3 separate regions of the Homo sapiens genome follow, and regions 2 and 3 are each linked to region 1. The links come from fine-mapping of genetic effects on plasma protein levels. A gene starts in region 1. Each other region holds a variant in brackets. All regions are shown on one strand. Distances are between the middles of the regions.

Region 1 (8,181 bases):
CTGCTTTATCAGCCCATCTGTGCAGGTCTGCCTCACAGCAATCAGCAGGAGCCATCCCTGTGTGCTTAAATTAGAGATGCTGTTATTCTCTCTCTCTCTCTTTTAATAAAGAAAAGGAAGTCATTTCTTATAGTTATGGAGGCTGAGGAGTCCAAGGTCAATGGACTGTATCTGGTGAGAGCTTTCATGCAAGTGGGGAGTCTGCAGAGTTCTATAGTGGCACAGGGCATCACACGGCAAGGGGGCTGAGCATGCTGCTATTTTCTTTCTACTTTTAAACTTGAGTTCTACAGACTTAGTAGACTAGCTGTGAACATATATATATATATATATATATATATATATATATATATATATATATATATATATAAAATCATCCATAAGGCTGGCAGCACTGAAAGCCAACATGGTGGGCACAGGCAAACCACAGTTCTTTTAGGCCCCGAACCTATCCTCATATTAGACAACATGTACTGAAGAGGAGACGTGATATGAAGAGGAGAGCTGTGAGGTTTATTTAAGGAACTTGATGAACATCTGTAGTGGGTGGGGAAGAAAGATTTGGGAGGAAATTTTCAACTGCTTATTGTCTTTTTTTTTTCCCCTCATGAAACATCACCTCCAATTCAAGAGTGTTATGAACATATTATTTGCAAGTGGATTGTTGTAAATGAAAATTATGTGTATTAATCCGTAAGATGTCTGAAATGATGACTGAGCAATGCATTACCTAAAAATATTATATATTGGCTAAGGTTGAGGTCAAGGGTTGGGGGAGGGATGGGGAATGTGTTAGTCTGTTTGGGCTGCTATAACAAAAACACCATAAATCGGGTGGCTTGTAAACAACAGGAGTTTATTGCTTATGGTTTTAGAGGCTGGTAAGTCCAACATTAAAATAATGGCAGACTTGGTGTTCAGAGAAGGCTCAGTCTCCTGGTCATAAGTGGTACCTTCTAGCTGCAGCCTCACATGTTGGAAGGGGCTAGCTAGCTCTCTGGAGTCTCTTTTATTTTACTTTTTAATATTTATTTATTTATTTACTTATTTTTGAGAGAGAGTCTTGCTCTGTTTGCCCAGGCTGGAGTGCAGTGGCGTGATCTTGGCTCACTGCAACCTCTGCCTTCCGGGTTCAAGCAATTCTCCTGCCTCAGCCTCCCGAGTACCTGGGACTACAGGTGACTGCCACCACGCCCAACTAATTTTTTGTATTTTTAGTAGAGATGAAGTTTCACCATGTTGACCAGGCTAGTCTCGAACTCCCGACCTCAGGTGATCTGCCCGTCTCAATCTCCCAAAATGCTGGGATTACAGGTGTGAGCCACCATGCCTGGTCCGGGTCTCTTTTATAAGGGCGCTAGTTCCATTTGTGAGGGCTCTGCCCTCATAACCTAATCACCTCCTCCAGATGCCCCACCTCCAAATACCATCATCTTGGGGGTTAGGAATTCATTGTACGAATTTTGGGGGGATACAACATGCAGACCATAGCAGGAAGCTGTGGGTGGAGGGCCCAGAACTGAGATACTGTCCAGAGGGAAAGTGGGTATCTGTACTTCTCAAAAAAACCAAAACCAACCTGTCAAGGCAGGGACCCCAGAGAAAATGGGAGGAGAAGCCTCACATGTATAGACTGGGAGGACAGGATCATCTCCAAAGTAATGCCCCAGCCTCTGCCTCTCACTTATAGGTCAGAGGGTCCTAAGTGATAAGAGAGAACCTTGGTGGAGGCTGCTCCACAATGGCCCCCATCCTGGAATTTTACCAGGAGCACCCTTGCTTGCCCACTCATCTGTCTCAGACGCCCAGGAAATTTTTGCACGTGTCATATCATCTGTGCTTATCTCAGTGTTGAGATAACCTTTTCCCTTGTTTTCTCCTTAATTTGGTTTTCCAGTTCTCTGCAAAAGAGAACTGCGGAGTGGGGACTGGACAACCTCTGAAAGAGCGCCTTCTGCTTTTGTGGAGTGCAGTGGCGTGATCTCGGCTCACTGTAAGCTCCGCCTCCTGGGTTCACACCATTCTCCGGCCTCAGCCTCCTGAGTGGCTGGGACTACAGGCGCCCGTCATCGCGTGCCCGCCTAATTTTGTTTTTGTATTTTTAGTAGAGATGGAGTTTCACCATGTTAGCCAGGATGGTCTTGATCTCCTGACCTGTGATCCGCCCGCCTCGGCCTCCCAAGGTGCTGGGATTACAGGCGTGAGCCACCACGCCCAGCCCCGGTTAATTTGTTTTGTGTTTTTAGTAGAGACAAGGTTCCACTGTGCTAGCCAAGATGGTCTTGGTCTCCTGACCTCATGATCCGCCCGCCTAGGCCTCCCAAAGTGCTGGGATTACAGGCGTGAACCACCGCACCAGGCTGTTCTTAGTTCTTAAGTAATGTTGACATATGGGTGATGATGAAGGAGATGATTAAAGCTTTCAAAGAAAGTGGAAGAATGTGTCAAATTCTCTCTTCACTTCCTAGATGACTTCAGTTTCCTAATCCATAAAATAGGACTAAGACCATTACTTATCTGATGAAAAGGAGAGACAATGTAATAAATAAGGTGCTTTGAATCCTGTATTAGTCCATTGTCACACTACTGAGAAAATTATAAATTACCTGAGACTGGGTAATTTATAAACAAAAGAGGTTTAATTGACTCACAGTTCCATATGGCTGGGGAGGCCTCAGGAAACTTATAATCATGGTGGAAGGTGAAGGGGAAGCAGGGCACATCTTACATGGCGGCAGGTGAGAGAGAGAATGCAGGGGAAATGCCAGACACTTATCAAACAACCAGATCCCGTGAGAGCTCCCTATCACAAAAACATCATGGGGGAAACCGCCCCCCACGATCCAATCACCTCCCAGGAGGTCCCTCCCCTGACACATGTGGATTACAATTCAAGATGAGATTTTTGGGTGGGGACACAGAGCCAAACCATGTCAGATCTCCAAATGGTAGCTATTATTTAGATGTCCTTTTCTTCTGTCTTGTTACAGTCACTGACACAGTTCAGGCTCTTATTATATCTCCATTGATGTCAGCTTCCAATCTAGTCTCTTGCATTCTCTGCTTCTGCCATCTATTTTCCAGTGTGGTGCCAGAGGAATCCTTGTAAAATACAAAGATGCATGTCATGCTACTGCACAGAATCTTTTAATAGCCTCCTTTTTTTTTTTCCCTTTTTCGAATAGGGCCTAAAATCTTCAATGTAGCATCCTTCCAGAAATAGTCTTCTGAACTTGGCTGCTTCTATTCATTCACGCATACATACATTTTACTGTCAGGAGCACCTTCTATATGCCAAACACTAAGCTACGTGTTTCACGTAGGTCATTTCACAGGATCCTGAAAACAACGCTTTCCTTAATATCTCCATTTTGCAGAAGAGGAAAGGGAGGCTCACAGGATGTGGAACTCACCCAAGAAGGCACAGCGAGTTGGTCATAAAGATTTGAATTCACTCTGGCTGGCACTCCCTTCAATTGGAGCTCTTTGTACTGAGCAAAAATGCCTCAGGGGCAGCAGGGAAGGGAATGACAGTATCAGCAGAAGGGAGCCAGGATCAGGACAGGGAGGAAGCAGTGTTTGGAAGAAGGGTGCTGGGGACAGGGTGCGGATGTAACTTCCCTTTCCAAGGTTGGTGATGTGGGGTAGGCACCTCATTTGGAGACAGAACTCTGGGCCTGGGCTTCAGGCACTTTAAGTGTGCACTGGACTTTGTGTTCCCAGAGGACCCCCAAACCTTCCAGTATCTCCTTCCTTTCCCCTTTCCCACCCAGCACACAGCCTGGTGCCTAGTGTGCACTCAGTAGACAACTGGGATATGACTATTGCCTCTGGTAGTCACATCCTCTCTTTGGGCTATGGGAGGCTGGACTGGAGGCCTTAAAGGCCCCTTCCGCCCTCCTGTTGGGCAGTTTTTCTTTCTTAGGGAAATCGCCTTGGGGCTATCGGGGATGGTCAGTACGCAGCTTGGTTAATCCTCTTTCCTTCCCCAGCAGCCCCACCGTCGTCCGGGTGAAAAGAAAGAACCTCGCTCCCTTCACCATCCAGGCTGAGGCTTCAGTCTTTCAGCCTGCAGCTTGGGGTGGAAGCCTCTGGGTGCAGGGGTTCGAGGACGCTCCTCTCCTTCTGTATTTGCCATTTGAGAGCGCCCAGTAGGAGTCATGCCTCAATGTTAGGAGGTTAATGCCAAACGCAGTGAAAGATTTTGTTCTTTCCTATTCTAGATAAGAGCAACACGAGTCTTCGGAGAGGTTAAGCGACTTCCTCAGGGTCTCGCAGTCAGCCGGTAGCAGAGACCGGGTGTACAGCACCCGCATGTTAGGACCAAAAGCCGGACACTGCTGGATTGACCCCTCGCGGCCAAGCGGGGAAGAGGCATTTAGGGGTCCTTGCGCAGCCGCGTGGCCCCTCCCACTCGGCCCTCGATCCACCCTCCTTGAGAGCAGGCAGGATTCTAGCATCACCCAGTGCCTTCATCAAGAGTCTTTAACCCCAAGCCCGCTCGCTAGCGACCTCCAGGCCGGTTTGGGGCGCGGTGTGGCCGGTGGCGAGAGGTGGAGTGGGGGCGGAGACCGACCCAGTCTTCGCAACTCTATTTGCATACGGAGGCGACTCGCTTCCTTCCCGCCCCTCCGCCGCGCTCTTCTTCCTTCCTTCTCCAGTCCCTTCCACTGTGCGTCTTCTGTCCCCCGTTCTTCCCCAGCGGACCCCTCTTTCGAGACTCCCTAGTGGGGTCCCCAGCTCCCGGGCGATCCTGCCCTTGCCGAGCGCGTTTTCTGGAGTCACCTGGGGGAGGGGAGTCCTGGGCAGGGCCGGGCTGGGGAAGACGCCTGGGGCACTGCCCGGCGTTAACAAAGGGAGCCGATACCGACCGGCGTGGGCGCGGAGCGGGCGGCCGCCACCGAGCGTGCTGAGCAACCGCAGCCTCCGCGGCCGAGAGTGCAGCGAGTGAGTAGGGGGTGCGGTGGGCGGCGGCGCGGCCCGGGCTATCCCGGGAGGAGTGTGATGCAAAGGGGCGCGGGAGGATAGCGGAGGCGCGGGGCCCGCGGCGCGCGTAGGGCGCAGGGAATCTCTCTCCAGCTCCGCCTCAGCTGCCTTGGCTCCGGGGCTGGCCGCCTTTTGGTTGGGGGTGTGTGCATTTTTGTCAGGGCCAAAGGGCCACCCTGGCTTCTCTCTGGCTCCGCGAGCCTGCGGATCCACAACAAACCCACGTGCGCACAGCCCCGGGGAACACGGATTTCTCCACGGCACCGTCAGTATGGGGTGGGGTGGCGTGGGGGCATTGCGCCTTGCAGAGTCTGGGTTTACGGATCGACAAATTGAGGCCCGCGGCAGCGGAGGGGGCACAGGCACCATAACAAACGCACGTGCGCCCTGCCCGGAGAGCTGGACGCACTGCATACCCTTAGGGGCCGCCCTGCGGTGCCGGGCCATTGTCTCAGCCTCGGGGGAGGGAGTGGCTCTAGAGGCGCCACTTGCTGGAAGAGGGCGAGAGAGACATTTAAAAGGTACCGCTTGGGCATCAGACTAAACTGCCAGACTTAAAAAGGGAAACCAAAACAAGAAAGCAGCTACAAAAAGGTTACTCCAGGCTGAGTCGGTCCCCGGCCGTGGCGCATTCTTTTGGGTGAAGTGGACCACCCCTCACCTTCACCTCCTGGAGGTCTCTTAGAGATGTGGGTTGGGTTAAGGGTCTAAGGGTGCCCCTCAAAAAAAGAGAGTGCTGGGTGCACTATTGTCCCCGCACTCCGGCGATTGCCTCTGTGGGGATATTTTGGTCGCCTCCTCAGCCTGCGGGAAGAATGTACGAGTCGCCCAGTGCGGTCTTGCTCTTTGCCTCTGAGGCCCGTGTCCGTGTGCCCAGACACCCCAGATGTCACTAGCCCCTTTTGGCTTGTTAATGCATTTTCGCAAGCAAGGCCAGCCGAGACCTCGTATTCTAGCTGGGGACGTACAATTTTCAGTTCTGAGTTTATTTGAAAGAAATTCCGAGGTCCGGAAAAAGAGAACTCTTGTTTGTTTTGCTTTTTCTTTGCTTACATATGCTCAGCTCAGCTTTGCAGATGTTAATCGGACACGATCTGCAGCGGGGAGATGGTTTCGCGGTGAATTGGTCTCTGAGGCGATGGTGTTGGTGCAGGTTGTGGGCGTGCAGTGTGAGCAGGAATGGAGGCGCCGCCGCCCCAGTGTGTGCCTGCTGAGCGGGCGGGCTGCTGCCTCACCTTGGCTAGTGTGGCTGAAGATTAACCTGTCCCCGGGGGGGGAACTGGAGAGCCTCCAATCCTATTCCGCTGTTATTGAAAAGGTCTAGAGAGCATCTAGGGAGCCTTCTCATTTTACAGGCAGGAAGCTGAGGCCGGAGAGTTCAGCCACTTGTCCAAGTTTAAACCGGGTGAAACGGGCCACAGAGAGAACACTTGAGTGTGGGTCTCCCAACTCCCACTGCATCGCTCAGCGGGCAACTAAAGGCAAAACCGGGATTCTGTGATTGGCCTAAAAGGCAGTGGCCTTAGGCAGAATAGGGTGAAACAAAGAGTAATTCAAATAGAAAGCTGCACCCTTCCATTATCCCTTTCAAGAATTCTTTATTCTGTTGAGAAAAAATAGATTTAGTAATTCCTTACTCTCCTTCAAGCCTTTCAAAAGCTTAGTTATTTTTCTCTCCTGGCTGCCCCTTCCCCTCAAATTGGAATAAGGCCAGCTACGGAGACTCAGATGTTTTGCCTCTCATCCTTGTGCCAGGAGGCCTTTGTTTGGGCAAAAGCATGGGCTGTTGACATCAGCCCCACGGGGAAGAAAGTGTGTCTTAGCAAGCTACTCCTGAGCCACTTGTGGGAGAACAAAGCATTGTTTTCACTGATCTTATTAAAGTTACTTTTTTTTTAACGAGAGTCCCATGGAAGTAGCTGCTTATTTTTGTATTTGGCAGAGAAGTAGGAAAACCAAAAAAACACTGAGAAGCCGGATTTCCCCAAAGTTAACATGTTGTTTTGCACTGTGCCTGTTATCTCCTAGTTACACTTGTTTCTTTTCCTTAGAGTTTCCAGCGTGTTTCACTTTCAATGTGATTCTGGTAGCAACAGGAGGCAGCTGGATGCCTAGGCAGATAGGGTCAGGTACCCGGTGAAACCCCCACCTCCAGGCCAAAGACAGTTTAAAGCCTGAAAGCCAAGCTACGAGTTAAATCCTCAGACCAGAGTGAGAACTTGTTTGGCGTGCTTTCCCCTAATTGATTCCTACATTTCGCCTGTTTTACATATACCCACTTTTTCCTAATTGGTTTTCTACGCTGCCGTGCCCACCTTTGAGTGGTGTCTTTGCTTTCATCTTTTTTGCATACTCACAAACCGGTCAGCATGCACTCCCTATTCTGAGTCCATAAAAGGCCCCTGACCCAGCCACATTGGGGAACTTTTCCGTCTTCAGGTAGGGGACCAACCCGGTGTCCCCTCTCTGCTGAAAGCTGTTTTCAACACTCAATAAAATTCTTATCTGCCTTCCTCTCCCTTCAATGTCCAGTGTATCCTCATTATCCTTTGGTGTGGTGCACGAGCTCGGAACCACCGAACGCGGGTACAAGCTATAATACAGTGAGCTGGGACACACCTGCATGGCCGAGCGAGCACAGGTGGGGCATTGCTGGCCCGAGGACCAAGAAGAAAAATCCTACATCAATTCCTCTTGGCACTGCAGTATAGTTTTCTCACCAGGACGCTGACCCTGTAAGGAACTTCAGAAATCATGTGACTGGACCCTTTTACTTTCCAGATGGGAAAAGTGAGGCCTAGAGAAGAGAAATTGCTTGCCTAATGATACACAACAATGCGTGGTCTACTTTTAGTGCACCTTTTTGCGTAAAAGGGAAATGGTTGCATCAAACCAGTAGTTGTTGGTACTCCAGAGAAAAGCCAAAGTTATGGTTGTTATAACAACACCCTTTAAGTCAGAGAACCAATTCCTTATGGATTTAAATAGGTTTGGTTATTAAGCAAAGCCAGGGATCCCAGTAGTAGGTATGCTGAATAGTGCAATTATCTCTGGGGATCAGCTTTCTTTAGTGTTTGCTGAACGGTTCACTTTACTCTTGTGCTGGGTTCCTCCATGTCTCTGTCTTGTGCTTCCCCATTTAGGGGCTGCTTTGTATGAAATCATAAGGCAAGAGGCAGTGAGAAGACAGAAGAG
Region 2 (8,181 bases), 310 kb before region 1:
CCAAAGCTCAGTGTCAGCTGGTAGAGTTGCCCACGTCGGCCAGAAGCACTCACTGTAAATTTGCTGGGCTCCAGTACCACCCATCTCCGCTGAACATCTGCCACAGACTCGTAATTAATACTCACTTGTGCTGACAAGCTTATAATGGCAAGATCTTAAAATGCCTTTCGAGTCACTGGAGAAAACATCTCATTGTACTGTGGGTGGTTTAGCACATTGGAATTCAACAGAATTCAAATGTTTAAGAAAATGTATTCTGGATATCAGCCATGGCCATACTTGGAAATACGCTAGTATAGACGGCAATTCTATTAATCAGAATATGTGATTCTCAGAACATCCCCACCCCAGACTACACCAAATAACAGATATTTTATTGTGTCCATATGCTCCAACTACTTTAAAAAAGAAAAGCTCAAGTGATATCTTCCATACTTTCATCTAAATCTTTTCATTTGAGCCTGCTCTATGAAACAGGTGGAAGAGGTATTAATCTCTTCACTTTCCCACCCTATTTTGGAATAACCTGAACCTTGGGTATCAAGTGCAGCCCAAGAGTGAGGGCTGGGGGGAGGCAGGGTTCCCACTCCTATCAGTCTAATGCTGGCCTTCTGATTCCGGTTTCCTATCTGCAAACTCACCTCCACCCTGAAGGACCGGTGATGGATACTTGCCCCTCCTACAAGGAAGACACAACCCCTACCTCTAAAGCACAAGCACTTGAGAACACAACCCCATAGCAACTGCCCTATGTAAGCCATTGAGGGACATGTCTTCTGGGCCGACGCATGGTCTGCATGAATGGTGCTCCCCGAAGGAGGCTACTTCCCGCTCTCCTTCTCTGCCCTTTTCATTGTAAGTCATCTTTCCTCAAGAGCATTTTCATGTACTCTTCTCAGCCCCTCCCACCTTCTACCTATGTGGAGTTTACAGTGTCTGGCACTGACTGTGTTGCTAAAGAGGCCACAGAGGCAGCCAAGTGTAACCTGCTGGCAGAAAAGGTGAGTGGGCCGGGACCTTGGGGTGTTACCACTCGGACAGAGCTGTTTGTGGAACAGAACATCCTTGGATAGTTTGTATCTTGGGGCTGCAGACAGAGAATAACAGTGCAAATCCCCTCTCCCTGTGGATCACGGCAAGCCTTCTTTTAGGGTGTCACCTCATCCCTTTAAGAGCTGTCATCAAATCATCTCACCCACTGGAAGCACATGAAGTTAGGAGAAAGAGAGAGGCTATTTGCTAATGAAGCCAAGTCACGCCCACCCACTGGGAATGTGAAGTGCACATTTTCTAGACATATAACTCTGATACAAAAGCTTTCAAGTCCTTGAGCCAATAATGTACACTTCTAGGATTTTAGTCTAAAGAAGTCATCAGTGGCCAGGCATGATGGCTCATGCCTGTAATTCCAGCACTTTGGGAGGCCAAGACGGGTGGATCGGGAGGTCAGGAGATCGAGACCATCCTGGCTAACATGGTGAAACCCCGTCTCTACTAAAAATACAAAAAAATTAGCCAGGCTTGGTGGTGAGCGCCTGTAGTCCCAGCTACTCGGGAGGCTGAGGCAGGAGAATGGTGTGAACCCAGGAGGCAGATGTTGCAGTAAACTAAGATCGTGCCACTGCACTCCAGCCTGGGCAACAGAACGAGACTCTGTCTCAAGAAAAAAAGAAAAAGAAAAAGAATTCATCAGTGACATTTGACAGAATATATCTATAAAAATGATTTATTATGGATATAAAGAGACCAAAAAAGAGAGATCTGTATGTCCAACAGGAAGGTGTCATTGAATAATCCATGCACATCAGTAAATAGAAAATTGTGCAGACACTAAAAATTGTGTTTTCAAGGAATAATGAATGATATGAGAAAATGCTATTATGGCAAGTGAAAACACACAGGATACAACATCGTATAGTCACAATGATCTCAATTTTTAAATCATATTTAATAGTATTTTAAAATAAGAAAGAAATGCATCAATGTTAACAGTCCTTCTTTCTAGGCCACCACCAGAAAGGGATTATGGGTAATCTCTCTCACTCTCAAAGTATTTCTGTATTTCCATGTTATATATAGAATCATATACCTCCCACAAGCAGAAACTATAACTTTAAGAAAAATGGTTTTTCAAACTAATTTAAGGTTGGCGCGTCAATGAAATTGGGGGGGATCCATTTTTGAAATTAGTTAAAATAAATCCTCTTTCTCTGTGGGCAGCAATATGGCTTTTGTAAGGCAACACTCAGTGAGAAGCTTGGTGGGGCAGAGGTTGCAGTGACCTGCATGGTGTTCCAAACACAGGTAACAGCTCCGTGAATATTCTTGCCTACACCTTCAGAATACAATGACCCCTTCACATTTATGCAGTGCAGTAGTGATGACAGGACATTTGCTCTCCTGTGCTTCTGAATCTCACAGTATGAAATAACACTGGGGTATGCGGAATCATCAACAAATGGAAGGATATTTTAGCTATGCCTTTCCCTCCCACGAACTAGTGACTACAGGGAAGAACCATCTTACTGTGTAGTTGACAAAGCCACCTTTTTATTTGTGGGAGGTGGGAGTGGTTTTCTGAGTTGCAGAGACCAGGTGGCCAGATCTACCTGTTAGCTCCCAGTGGCTGCAGCTTCAGATGACAAAGAGGGTGGCACTGCTGGGCAAGGGTGAGCCATAGGTGGGGTGCTTTTACTCATTGGACATATGCGTGTAAGTCCACCATCACAAAGACAATCCTAGTGAGGCCGGGGCCAACATAGGCCAGTCACCCCTCCTTGTAACCTTGATGACAATCCCTTGTACTTGGGTAGGTCCTTTCTTGCTAGACTCTTTGCAAATAAAAATGTATAATGTGAGGAAATTGGGTGCCAGTGCCACCTGGGCCTGTGGGTTGTCTTGCCTGGGAGGAGGAAGCAAACTAACTGAAGGAAATGGTCCTTTTTCCAGCCCGTGAGCTCACAGCCCCAACCAGAAGGTGCCAATGAAGCAGTCCCCACACCCGTGGTGGACCCAGATGCACCTCCGTCCCCTCCACTTGGCGCACCTGGACTCCCTCCAGCTGGCTCACCCCCAGACTCCCATGTGTTACTGGCAGCTCCTCCAGGACACCAGTTGCACCGGGCGCACTACGACCTG[C/T]GCCACACCTTCATGGGTGTGGTCTCATTGGGGTCACCCTCAGGAGAAGTGTCGCACCCCCGGAAAACACGCACAGTGGTGCAGCCTAGTGTTGGTGCTGCTGCTGGGCCAGTGGTTCCTCCATGTCCGGGGAGGATCAGACACTTCAAGGTCTAGGCTAGACATGGCAGAGATGAGGAGGTTTGGCACAGAAAACATAGCCACCATTTTGTCCAAGCCTGGGCATGGGTGGGGGGCCTTGTCTGCTGGCCACGCAAGTGTCACATGCGATCTACATTAATATCAAGTCTTGACTCCCTACTTCCCGTCATTCCTCACAGGACAGAAGCAGAGTGGGTGGTGGTTATGTTTGACAGAAGGCATTAGGTTGACAACTTGTCATGATTTTGACGGTAAGCCACCATGATTGTGTTCTCTGCCTCTGGTTGACCTTACAAAAACCATTGGAACTGTGACTTTGAAAGGTGCTCTTGCTAAGCTTATATGTGCCTGTTAATGAAAGTGCCTGAAAGACCTTCCTTAATAAAGAAGGTTCTAAGCTGAATGTGGTCATGCTTATTGCGACTTCATCCCAGCTCCCCTCACATGCATAGCCTTTTACCCCAACAAACACAGTGTCCCTAATCAAAATCAAAGTGAAAAGAGAACCAAAAGAGAACAAAAACCTGCTGTATTGCCAGATACAGGAAAAAGTGAGACTAGGATCTTTCCACAACCCATAAGATGTGACCATTTCTTTTTTTTTTTTTTTCTGAGACGGAGTCTTACTCTGTCACCCAGGCTGGAGCGCAGTGGCATGATCTTGGCTCACTGCAAGCTCCACCTCCCAAATTCAAATGATTCCCCTGCCTCAGCCCCCTGAGTAGCTGGGACTACAGGTGCGTGCCACCACACCCAGCTAATTTTTTTTATTTTAGTGGAGACAGGGTTTCACCATGTTGGCCAGGATGGTCTTGATCTCCTCAACTCATGATCCACCCACCTCGGCCTCCCAAAGTGCTGGGATTACAGGCGTGAGCCACCGCACCTGGCCAAGATATGACCATTTCTTTATGAGAAAATAATTCTTCTCATTTTATAAGAGAGAGAAAATATTGCTAAAGGTGGGCCAAGCTCCTGAACTTTGTACAGAATAAACTATCCATTGATTTTCTCCAGTACCGAGGTAAGGAGGGATTGGTAATTAAAACAAGATCCTCACTTTATATCTGTTGTTAATTATGTTTAAGATATACGTTGAGTGTACTGTATACACTTCATTTTATAACACAAGATTGGTCTTCCTAGCCAATCTATTTTAAGGACCCAAGTTAAAGCTGTGACTTGTAGTATCATTAGATAAAGGATGCCTGGACAGGTGAATCCCGTGGACATTTGTAGACACCGTCCAAGTGCTCAGATAGCATATGTGAATAAACCCTCCCCATTTTAGCATGGTCCCTGGGCAATTTCAATTTTTGTCCATCAGCATTAAGTTTTTCCGATCTACCTCAGTGATGGGCCCTTTCAGATGGAATTTTAGAGGGCAGGACTGACACCCAGTTGAGTGACTTCACTTTAAACCAAGGAGAATGAATCAAGTGTTGACACTCACCTTATCACTTGTGCCTAGAGGTTTTGCCAATATTCCAGTAACCAAAAGGAAAGGCCAGAAAGGTAAGAAAACCACTAGGTGTCACGGAAGCCAGAGAAGAAGCTATGGGCAGCTGTGCTAAATGCTGTAGAAAGAGCAGTAAGGACGACTGACTCTGAGGTCATGGTGACCACTGGCAGATGCAGTTGCTCTAGGGGCATCCTGGTTGTCAAGAGTTTACTGGTGTTGTTGCTGTAGGGAGACTGGAGAGTGGGCTGTAGCTGGGCAAGAGTAGCCACAGGATAGAAAGTCACTAGAGCTTTCTAGAGAAAAGATTAACATGAGTTGGTCTAAGGTGGTGGGCAGTGGACATGATAAAAAGAGGTTATAATTTGGAGGTAGAACTCCCAAGACCTGCTGATGAATTTGATATGGGAGTGAGAAAGACGTGAAGGATGATGATTCCTGGATTTGTGGCTTTGTGAACTGGATAGATGTGTGTGTGTGTGTGGGGGGGGGGCATTTACTGAGGCAGTGAATTCTAGTTTGTTTCATTTGCATTACCTCAGTTTCCCTCCTCTCCAACTTAAAATTCGTGCAGATGATTTTTCTATGTCTATTTTTCTGTGTCTGGCTAATGCATGCCTTGATCTCATGTCTCTCAAAGAAGCAGTGAAGTCACATAGACCTGCAAAACCTGAGCCAAGCTGCTTCACCTTTCACTTCTTTCTGCCCACATTATACAACCAGACATAGATAACAGCTGATGTACTGGTGTTGGGAGGATTAAATGAGATGCTACAAATTTATGTATGACACCTTCTTGACACATTCTAGGTTCTCAGTAAGTGCCCTCCCTTTCTGCTGCTGCTCCTCATCCTCTGAATTTGGTGGCCTCAGAAGATTATGTTGTTGACCTTCTCTTAAATATGTACTCTGCTTGGCAAGTTTATCCTCTCTCATGATTTAAACTATCATTGTTACCCAGATAACTGCAACTTAATAGCTCCAGATTGGACCTCTTTATTGAATTCTAACATTGCATTTCCAAATACCTTCAGGATTTCCTCACTAGAATTACCTAAAACAGTTTCCTATGTGACTTGTTTCCTCTAAATGATGCATATCTGGAGACAGCATTATTCAAAATGTGCATTATTTTAAAATTACTTATTCCCAATAATAATAGAGAGAATGAGTTACAGAGCTGTTAAATCTACCACCCTTATAGCACATTTTTTGTATTAATGCTGCTCGGTACTTTCTTAACATTATTATTTTACAGAGTGTTCTCTCCTAAATTAATAGCATTACATATGTCTCATTTCTTTGCCTTCTTAGTGGATTTTAATCATGTCTAACACATGTTTCAAAGTTATTGGATTTCAGGTGCATTTTTCCATACTTGTGTCACTACTACCAATTAAGAATATTTGGTGGATGTTAAGATAATACAAAAATTGTCCAGGCACGGTGGCTCATGCCTGTAATCCTAGCACTTTGGGAGGCCAAGGCAGGTGGATCACCTGAGGTTAGGAGTTGGAGACCAGCTTGATCAACATGGTGAAACACCGTGTCTACTAAAAATACAAAGTTAGCCGGGCGTGGTGGTTGCGGTGAGCTGAGATCGTGCCATTGCACTCCAACCTGGGCAACAAGAGCGAAACTCCATCTCAAAAAAAAAAAAAAAAAAATTCTGTACTAGTAGGCTGGCTAGTGAAATGATGTTATCTTCACTCCATTGACTACTTTGCAGAAATTTAAAATCATGTTTATAAAAAAGTAACAATTAAATGTTATTAAAAAGTAACAATTCATATAGAAAAACATTGATAATATATTTTGAAATGAAAAAAGTGGGTTATAAAGTGGTATAATCCTGAATTTCTAAAATTAATTTATATATGTAGACATATTAATATACACATACAGACATAAAAAATTACCAAGTAACAGGAAGAAAAACTAAAATACTAACAGTGGTTATATCTGAATTATGGAATAATGGGGAGCTGCTTTTCTTTGTTGTATTAATGCTTTGTCTTATTTCCTAAACTTTCTATAATGCTCAAGTTTTACTTTCGTAGAAAGATATTTTTATTTTGTTTGTCCAGAATAGGGGTTAGAAAACGTTTTAGTGAAGGACCAGATAGTAAATATCTTTGGTGTTATGGACCATGTGGTCTCTATTTCAATGCAACTCTGCTATTTTAGGAAGAAAGCAACTATAGCCAATATATAAATGAATAGGCATGGCTGTATTCCAATAAAACTTTTATTACAAAATTAGCAGTGAGCTGAATTTGGCCTTTGGCTATAGTTTGCCAGGGTGGCCTAGAACAGTGGAAATAAGGAGAAATCGAGTTGGGGGGAAAAATGGCAGTCAAAGAGTAGATCAGTTTCACATGGAGTTAGATGCTGGTCTCTGGTATCAAGCTGGTCAAGCGAGAAAGAAGTAAGGGTGTTGTCTGTACAGAAGATGAATCCATGTGAATAACGACAAGGTGAAGGTGGAGGGCAGGAGTATAAGCCAGGAGACAAAGATGTTAGCAATACAGAGAGGCCAGTAAGTCAGAAGATGGCAGGAACAGGAAGAGGAAAGTGTCTGCAAGCTAGGTGGCATGGTCCTCAAAGAAAAAGCGTTCTTTTGTTTTGTTTTGTTTTTGTTTTTGTTGTTTTCGCTCTTGCTGCCCAAGCTGGAGTGCAATGGTGCGATCTCGGCTCACCGCAACCTCTGCCTCCCAGGTTCAAGCGATTCTCCTGCCTCCTCCCAAGTAGCTGGGATTACAGGCATGCACCACCATGCCCAGCTAATTTTGTATTTTTAGTAGAGACGGGTTTCTCCACGTTGGTTGGGCTGGTCTCGAACTCCCGACCTCAGGTGATCTGCCCACCTCGGCCTCCCAAAGTGCTAGGATTACTGGTGTGAGCCACAACACCCGGCCGAGAAAAAGGGTTTTATGCGAGCACAGAGGACTAATATCCTGGAAGTAACATTGGAAAATGGGGAGGATACCAATGTTACTAAAAATAAGCATCCATTCCAGAGTTGTTATGGAGAAGTTGTGCTTGAGCAAAAGTGAGACTCAAGTTGAGCACAGAAAATGACTCAATTAGTAGGGCAGGTAGTCTTTTATCCACTATGGAATGGAAATTTCAGAAGGCACGGTGGAAGGATTTGGGCAAAGGAGGCATATCTGATGGTACAGCAAGTCGAGGAAGAGGAAGCAGAAAGCGAAAAGAGATGATACTGCTGAGAAAGGACAGACAACAAAAAGAGTTCTGTTTGAGGCATATCAAGCTTTCAGGAGCTAGGGTCCGGAATGAGTAGGCAGCAGCCTGCCTTGATCGTAGTTTGATGATTCAGGTCAAGACCAGGCCATGGGATGAATGAACTCTCAGGCCCTCAATACAGGAAGCAATGGCAATCTCTGGAGGATGGGAGGACTTTTCCGAACTGGATAGCTGCC
Region 3 (8,181 bases), 93 kb after region 1:
CTTGGAGTCTGATGTTCGAGGGCAGGAAGCATCCAGCACAGGAGAAAGATGTAGGCTGGAAGGCTAAGGAAGTCTAGTCTATTCACATTCTTCTGCCTGCTTTTTATTCTGGCTACAATGGCAGCAGATTAGATGGTGCCCACCCAGATTAAGGGTGGGTCTGCCTTCCCCAGCCCACTGACTCAAATGTTAATCTCCTTTGGCAACACCCTCACAGACACGCCCAGGATCAATACTTTGCATCCTTCAATCCAATCAAGTTGACACTCCGTATTAGCCATCACAGGGGCATGCTAAGCAAGAATTGTGTCTATGGCTGTAATCACAAAGTTACGATTATTGGAGTAAGCTCCACAAACCAGAGTCCCTTGTCCAGGGCCTCCAGAGATCCACCAGACACTTGAGTATCTCGAAAAGCCAGATGGGAGAAGCACGTTCACCACGGCAAACCTGCGCAGCCAAGAAAATCAAGTTTCTTTGTTTTATGCTAAACTTTTATCAACTGACTGTGGTAGTCGTGGCAATCTCATGCCATTCAGAACCTCTGATTGGCAACAGTATCTTTGTTCATTTGATAACAAATAACTCAAATTTTAAATTAAAGTTAGTCGACAACATCTTTCAAAATCTTGGAATCGTGTCGGGGGAAACAAAATACAAGAGATATGATTTGATGTGAAAGAATTTAGGACCTCTTGGCTTTGATTAAATTAGGGTGTGCTTCTGTTGTTTCACTGGGATTGTGAAATGTTGGGATGAGGAGATATGAAAAATCTATAGCTGAATATTCTGTTGATGGTTTTAAACCATAGAAATAAATATTCAGGAAGTCTCTATTGAGTAGCTCTATAGGGTAATGCTAGCTGCTAGAGCAAATAAACTCACGTCTTAACCATCTTGGCCCAGAAGTGATGTATGTTATTTTTGCTCACATTTCTTTGCCAATAACTAGTAAAATGATCCCATCTATATGCTGTGTGTGTTTGTGTGTGTGTAAAATGCAATCCCTCTCTGGACAGTAATTTACAGCAATAACTATATGGCAGAAGGAGCAAACTTCTTGTGGGGCAGCCAGCTATCCCTGATATGAGGAAAGAGAAAGAAGGGTCAGCATTAAGTGGCAGCTCAGGTGGCACACATTAAGAATCCAAGCTCTTAGAGAAATGGGAGTCCTTCATGGGAGAGGGTTTCTGGCAGCCAGGACACATGGAGCCCCTCTCGGAGGCACTATGCCACCCTCTGGGGGCAACAGGGTGTCAAGCACTCTAAGTCTAAGAACAGAAAGTTTGGGTTCTAAGGTCCAGATGAGGGTGAGGTTTGTGCACTAAAGATTAAGGAGATGAAGATCAGGGCAGAGTAAATAGGTGTCACCAGAAGGTCAATACAGTGATTAGCAACTGTAGTTGGTGTGATAAAGCAGAGAGGCTCGCAGTAGCCCTTGGAAGGGCCTGAGTAGAGGGACATAGGATGAAGAGCACTACCAGTTTGTTGGTTAGAATAATCTGGTCAGCCGGGCATGGTGGCTTATGCCTGTAATCCCAGCACTTTGACAGGCTGAGGCGGGTGGATCACGAGGTCAGGAATTCAAGACCAGCCTGGCCAAGATGGTGAAACCACGTCTCTACTAAAAATACAAAAATTAGCCGGGCGTGGTGGCGGGTGCCTGTAATCCCAGCTACTCGGGAGGCTGAGGCAGAGAATTGCTTGAACCTGGGAGGTGGAGGTTGCAGTGAGCCGAGATTGCACTGCTTCACTCCAGCCTGGTAACAGAGCGAGACTCTGTCTCAAAAACAAACAAACAAACAAAAAACAAAACACACCGTGGTTTCACCATTTACAGTGACATCTTGAGCAAATGACTTAAACTCTCTGAGTTTCAATTTCTTTATTTAAAAAAGAGGATTGTTAATACCCCACCCCACAGGGTGGTGGTAAGAATTAAATTTGGTAACATCTATAAGACCTGCTGTTCATTACAGTTGATTCTTAAGGCAGCATCCGGTGATGCCTTTGAAACATACATCGGCAAAGTCTTAATCAGATGAAAGCCAAAACCCCTACACCTGTGTAAGGCGCCACATTATCTGGCTGCCCCTGTGTAGGTATTTTGCTGTTCCCTCTACTTGCAACCCTCTTTTCTCAGAAATCTGCATGGTAGCCTCCTTCATCTCTGTTAACAGAAAAACCAAATTCTGTAAAATATTTTCAAGAAGTTTATCCTGAGGCAATATGAGTTACTGTAGCTTAGAGAAAACACAAACCCAAGAAGCCTTGAGTGAGTGGCCCTGAGGCAGTTGGGCCATAGTCTGGTTTTATACATTTTAGGGAGACAGGCATTACAGGCAAGGATATCTGGAAATCAGTACATGGAAGGTAACTGGTAGTTCTGTCCAAAAAATGTGAGACATCTCAAAGTGGGGGAGGGTGCGGTGTTAGGATATATGTATTGGTGGTTTTTTTTTTTGTTTTTTTTTGAGATGGAGTCTCGCTCTGTCACCCAGGCTGGAGTGCAATGGCGTGATCTCTGCCCACTGAGCCTCTGCCTCCTGGGTTCAAGTGATTCTCCTGCCTCAGCCTCCTGAGTAGCTGGGATTACAGGAGCATGCCACCACGCCCGGCTAATTTTTGTATTTTTAGTAGAGATGGGATTTCACCATGTTGGCCAGGATGGTCTCGATCTCCTGACCTCGTGATCCACCTGCCTTGGCCTCCCAAAGTGCTGGGAATACAGGCGTGAGCCATCATGCCTGGACTATGTGTTGGTTTCCATGCATGTTTCCTGGCGCATAGCCCCATAGCCCTTGCTACAGTCTTGCTAGAATGCTGGGCTTTTTAGACTTCAGGGACAGGCCCTAAGAAACAGTCTCTCTCCTGCCGTCCTTTCACCTGCCCCAAGGCAAGGTTTTTATGTTTTCTGGCCTGACTGTGGGCCTTACAACCCTCCCATGAGGCCAGGCATAGTGGTTCATGCCTGTAATCCCAGCACTTTGGGAGGCCGAGGTGGGTGGATCACCTGAAGTCAGGAGTTCGAGACCAGCCTGACCAACATGGTGAAACCCCGTCTCTACTAAAAATAGAAAAATTAGCCGGGTGTGATGGTGGGCGCCTGTAATCCCAGCTACTCGGGAGGCTGAGGCAGGAAGAATTGCTTGAACCCGGGAGGCAGAGGTTGCAGTGAATCAAGATCATGCTACTGCACTCCAACCTGGGCGACAGAGCGAGACTCTGTCTCAAAAAAAAAAAAAAAAAAAAACCTTCCCATGAGAGGTTCCTACCCTATGCCCTGGGGGAAGAAATGCTGACGTCAAGGAAGCTTCTATAAAAACCCAAGAGGACAGGGTTGGGTGAACTTTCTGATAGCTTAATAGGAGGAGGTTCCT[G/A]TAGGGCGGCACAACCAGGGAGGGCGTGGAAGCTCTGCATCCCTTCTCCCATACCTTGCTCTACACATCTCTTCATCTGTATCCTCTGCAGCATCCTTGATGATAAACCAGTAAATGTAAGTAGGGTGTTTCCCTGAGTTCTGTGAGCCGCTCCAGCAAATTAATTGAACCCACGGAGAGGGGAACCCCAATGGAAGCTGGTTGGTCAGAAAGAAGTTCTGGAGGCCTGGACTTGTGACTGGTGGAGGGGGGATGTCTTGGACACTAAGCCCTCAATCTGTAGGATCTGACACTATTTCCAGGTAGATAGTGTTGGAACTGAATTAGAGGACACCAAGCTGGTGTCGCTGCTTGGTGTTGGGGTGGGACCCCCACACATATGGTCACATAAGTCATCTTCTGTGTTGATTGTTGTGGTGTGAGAGCAGAGGAAAGATGGCTACAGAGAGTTTTCCCTACACAGGGACTTGGGGGGTAGAGGGTTAGGGGAGGGCTGAGGGGCCTTACAAGTCTTAAGTGCGTTTTAGGGATTCTTTAGCTAACAGTAGCTGAGAGAGTCAAGTTATTGTCTAGTGACTTGAAGTCAGTAGGAAGGAATGCCTGAGTAAGATAAGGAGGTTGTGGGGGCCTAGGTCCTTGGAGCCTCATAGATAGCAGCCCTCTGGGTGAATAGATAGTGATTGTCTCTTCTCAGACCTTTGGGTGTCTGACTCTCAGTTAGAATCTCTCCTAGATCTGGGAAAGGCCTAGCAAGGGAAGAGACATTAATATCGATTCTCTGGAGATGCACGTTTCCCCCACCAAAGATGGCTTTGCAGTCCAAAGGCTGTCTGGCAGCCTTTTCCAAATATGTCAAAGAAATGTATTTTGGGGCAAAATATTTTAATTTCCTTCAGAGTCTGCTGTCTGTCATGTGATACTATACCAGAGTCAGGTTGGAGAGTAAGCCACATTTTACTGGGTTAATTAAAAAACCCATTTAATGAGACTGTATTGTTTCTAGGGTATGACTTAATCTTTGCCTTTTATGGCCTTAGGTATTGTGTATAGTTTGGTATCTTATTGTCATAAAGGGTCTGTTTGGTCAGTCTTATAATCTCTATTTTACCTTAATGCTGGTCACTTGTACCTAAACCCCAAAAGGGAGGGGTATGATGAGGGTGTAACCTCCTTTCTGTCATGGCTGGGAATTCAGTTTTTCAGGTTTCTCTGGGGTGCCCATGGCCAAAAAGGAGTCCATTCAGTTGGTTAGTGGGGGGCTTAGGATTTTATTTTTGGTTTACACCTCCTTCCAACCCTTGCTCAAATGTCTTCTTCTCAGTGAGGCTTTCTCTGATCATCTGATTTAAATCTCCACCTCACCCACTCCAAGCTGTCCCTATTTCTCTTCCCTACTCTAATTGTCTGCATATCAGTTATCTCCTTGCAAAGCACCACGGATTTATGTTGTTTGACTCTTTATTTATCCTCACTATAAGGTGAGTGCTGGAGGGGTTAGGGATTTCTGGCTGGCTTCTCTACTGCTGTGTCTGCAGTCTGGTTCACAGTAGGCAATCAGCATTTGCTGAAAGAATGAACCTATAGCTTGGAACCAACCCAAATGTCCAACAATGATAGACTGGATTAGGAAAATGTGCACATATACACCATGGAATACTATGCAGCCATGAAAAATGATGAGTTCACGTCCTTTGTAGGGACATGGATGAAGCTGGAAACTATCATTCTCAGCAAACTATGGCAAGGACAAAAAGCCAAACACCACATGTTCTCACTCATAGGTGGGAATTGAACAGTGAGAACACATGGACACAGGAAGGGGAACATCACACACCGGGACTGTTGTGGGGTGGGGGGAACGGGGAGGGATAGCATTAGGAGATATACCTAATGCTAAATGATGAGTTAATGGGTGCAGCACACCAACATGGCACATGTATACATATGTAACAAACCTGCACGTTGTGCACATGTACCCTAAAACTTAAAGTATAATAATAATTAAAAAAAAAAAAAAGAATGAACCTATCGCATGAGTATTGGTGTAAGTTTTCTTACAGGCCCCGGGGCCACCACAAAGTAGAAGAACTCAACCTTCCCTATTCATTTCCTCACCTCCAACTCCCTTAGACTACCAGGACTTAGATCCTTTTGGGTATATATATACATATATATGTTTTATATATATACATATATACATGTTTTGCTTGTTTGTTTGTTTTTTGAGACAAAGTCTCGCTGTGTCACCCAGGATGGAGTACAGTGGCATGATCTCTGCTCACTGCAATCTCCGCCTCCAGGTTCAAGTGATTCTCCTGCCTCAGCCTCCTGAGTAGCTGGGACTACAGGTGCATGCCTCCACGCCTGGCTAATTTTTTGTATTTTTAGTAGAGACGGGGGTTTCACCATGTTAGCCAGATGGTCTTGATCTCCTGACCTCGTGATCTGCCCGCCTCGGCCTCCCAAAGTGCTGGGATTACAGGCATGAGCCACCGCGCCCAGCCTAAATGTTTTATATATATATATACACACACACATATACTCTATATATATATACACACACACATATATACACATATATATGTGTATATATATATATATATATAGAGAGAGAGAGAGAGAGAGAGAGAGAGAGTATATGTGTATATATTTTAACAAAAAAAGCCTGGGAGAACCATTGAATTTGAAACCACCAAATCTCAACAAGCCTTGAAATCTAACACTCAGTTTAAGGAAACACAGAGCAGAGAGGAGAACATTAAACAACACCCTGAGGAAGCCGTGAGCCAGGCTCAGAACATAAGCCACTCCACAGGAGAAATGACTTCATTTTTTCAACAAATATATGCCGTGGAAAAGAAGAAGTAAGGGAGCGAGGAACTCTTCTAGATAAGAGAGAATTGAAAATGGCACATCATCCAGTCATCCAAACAAAATGTCCTGTCCTTGTTTGGATCCCCTTTTGAGCAGGTTAGTGTAAAAGACATTATTGAGAGAATTGGTAAACATTTAAAGGTGGGTTGGATATTGGGTGATATTGGCATTGTGATCATATTGAATTATTATTTATATTCATATATTCTCTGGCAGAACCTGGTGCGTGTGTGTGTGTGTGTGTGTGTGTGTGTGTGTCTGTGTGTGTGTGTCTCACAGTGTAGAGAATCTGAGGGTCTACGTTCTCAATTCTCCCAGGGGTGGTACGATTCTGCCAGGGGTGGTACGTAGGTAATTCTCGATGCCATGGGAGTTAGTTGATGCGTTGCATACAATGGAGGTCTTAGGACATTAAGGCTTAATTTTTTGTTGGATCCGCAGTTGGGAAGAGCTGGTAGCAGGAAACTGATACAAAGTCTGGCGTTTGCTTTAAATTACTCCAAGAAAAATCGAAGCAGTGTAGTAAAGATTAGGAGGTGAGACAGTTCCTCTTTCTGAGGAGATGGCGGGCCCGTTTTCTTCTTTGTCTGGCTCTCTGTAGCATAGGGGTGTGGTGTAGTGTAGGGATGTGGAGGAAAGAGTGGGTAGCTGTGTTGCTGGGGAGGGGTGAAGTGTTTTTTCCACTCTCTATATAGGCCCTTCCTGCGCTCTCCTCTGCTTAATGCTGATTTACCAAGCGGAGTGCAAATTGTGTGGTGAGCATGTGGGAGATGCCTCCTGGGGCTGGGGTGTGTAGTGGGGAGTGGGCATTATACAGAAAGGGAATTCATGGGGCACGAAAGGCCTACTTTTTGCCAGGCACCTGTCAAATAGGAAGGCAGATATTTCTATGAATACAAGTCTGTCTGTCTGTGCATGGGGTGCAAGGGTGAAGACAGTAGCAAATGGCTCATGATTTCCCTTTGCCATGGCTGTGTCAATCTGGAGTTCAGAGCTCTCCTAATCAGTTCCGAGTGGTTGGCTCTGGTCAGGGACCGCAGCCTGACCTCATGGTGGGGACACAACACCCCCCAACAAAGTTCTGTTCTCCAGACTCTTAGAAAACCTCTGGGGAAATGTACTCAGGGAAATGTTCTGAGGACTTCATTATCAGTGCTGCCTGGCTGGGAAAAGATGTAATCTCTGGTAAGAGACCCTTGGCAGGAGTGAAAGCCCTTTATCTTCAGGGCTTTGCTCTGGGCAGGATCTCCCCCTCCCCACCATGAGCCATGCAGGTGGGCCTGTCCTCAGGTAAACACTTGCCAACAGTCACAGCCTCTCAGGCACTGCGCGCCCCTCATGGCTTCCTTTCTTTCACTGTCTTCTCAGATTCACCAGCTACAAGTCGGTTTCTTGTTGCATATCATGCTTCTGACCTTTGCTGCGCTTTTGAGCAAAACGGTGACTTGTCAGAAATGTTTTGACAAATGATTAATGTTTTGACCCATGTTGGTTCCCGCTTGATAGAGCTCGGTGGGTAGGAGCTGGGGTGGTAGAGCCAGACAGCCTGGGCAGGCTCCTCTGGGGACTCTGTGAAGCACATGGTGATAACAGTGCTCGCCTTGGGCACTGTTGTTGCTGCAGGAATTAAATGAGCTTCACCAAATTACAGGACCTTTACTGCCTGTAAATTACTTAGCACATAGTAAAAGCTCATTAATTATTAGCTAAAATAAAGTGATAAAAATCTATCATTAAATTGTCAGCACAGCCCTGCAGAGGCAACCTTTTAAGTATTGTTATCCTTCGCAGATGAAGACACAAGGTTCACAGAAACTGACTAATTGGCCTAAGATAACTTACAGTACAAAAGCCAGGATTTCAATCTAGCTTTTTGAGACTAGAGCCTGAGTGAACTGTTTCTCCAAAGCCAAGGCTTCTCAAACTA

Which allele goes with the higher level. Alleles are on the strand shown, and positions count from the first base shown. The strength of an association depends on the size of the effect and on how common the allele is. Not every link is listed here.
With allele C in place of T in region 2, the plasma level of the protein whose gene starts at base 4,639 in region 1 is lower (moderate association).

The links. PIP is the posterior inclusion probability: the model's chance that the variant is causal. The UK Biobank Pharma Proteomics Project read protein levels with antibody pairs (Olink). The fine-mapping took linkage between variants from a reference panel, not from the people measured, so its PIPs are less certain.
Region 2: its variant is fine-mapped to the plasma level of the ST6GAL1 protein (UK Biobank, PIP above 0.99).
Region 3: its variant is fine-mapped to the plasma level of the ST6GAL1 protein (UK Biobank, PIP above 0.99).

The regions. Positions count from the first base shown.
Region 1 is chr3:186,925,888-186,934,068 of GRCh38, forward strand. It overlaps ST6GAL1 (ST6 beta-galactoside alpha-2,6-sialyltransferase 1), which reads left to right and starts at 4,639. Exons shown (of 8, transcript NM_173216.2): 1 at 4,639-4,947. RefSeq lists enhancers at 4,254-4,862, 6,956-7,005, 7,026-7,085 and silencers at 4,550-4,629, 4,870-5,059.
Region 2 is chr3:186,617,637-186,625,817 of GRCh38, forward strand. It overlaps AHSG (alpha 2-HS glycoprotein), which reads left to right. Exons shown (of 7, transcript NM_001622.4): 5 at 900-1,001; 6 at 2,221-2,304; 7 at 2,950-3,682. The coding sequence ends at 3,294. Among named protein-coding and RNA genes, the nearest start is that of AHSG, 8.7 kb to the left of the region's middle. The variant C/T (reference allele first, on the strand shown) is at 3,139.
Region 3 is chr3:187,018,509-187,026,689 of GRCh38, forward strand. The region is part of intron 2 of ST6GAL1 (ST6 beta-galactoside alpha-2,6-sialyltransferase 1); the gene reads left to right. Among named protein-coding and RNA genes, the nearest start is that of ST6GAL1, 92 kb to the left of the region's middle. RefSeq lists a promoter at 2,894-3,471, a cis regulatory region at 3,378-3,471, enhancers at 3,474-3,743, 7,353-7,682 and a silencer at 5,710-5,799. The variant G/A (reference allele first, on the strand shown) is at 3,381.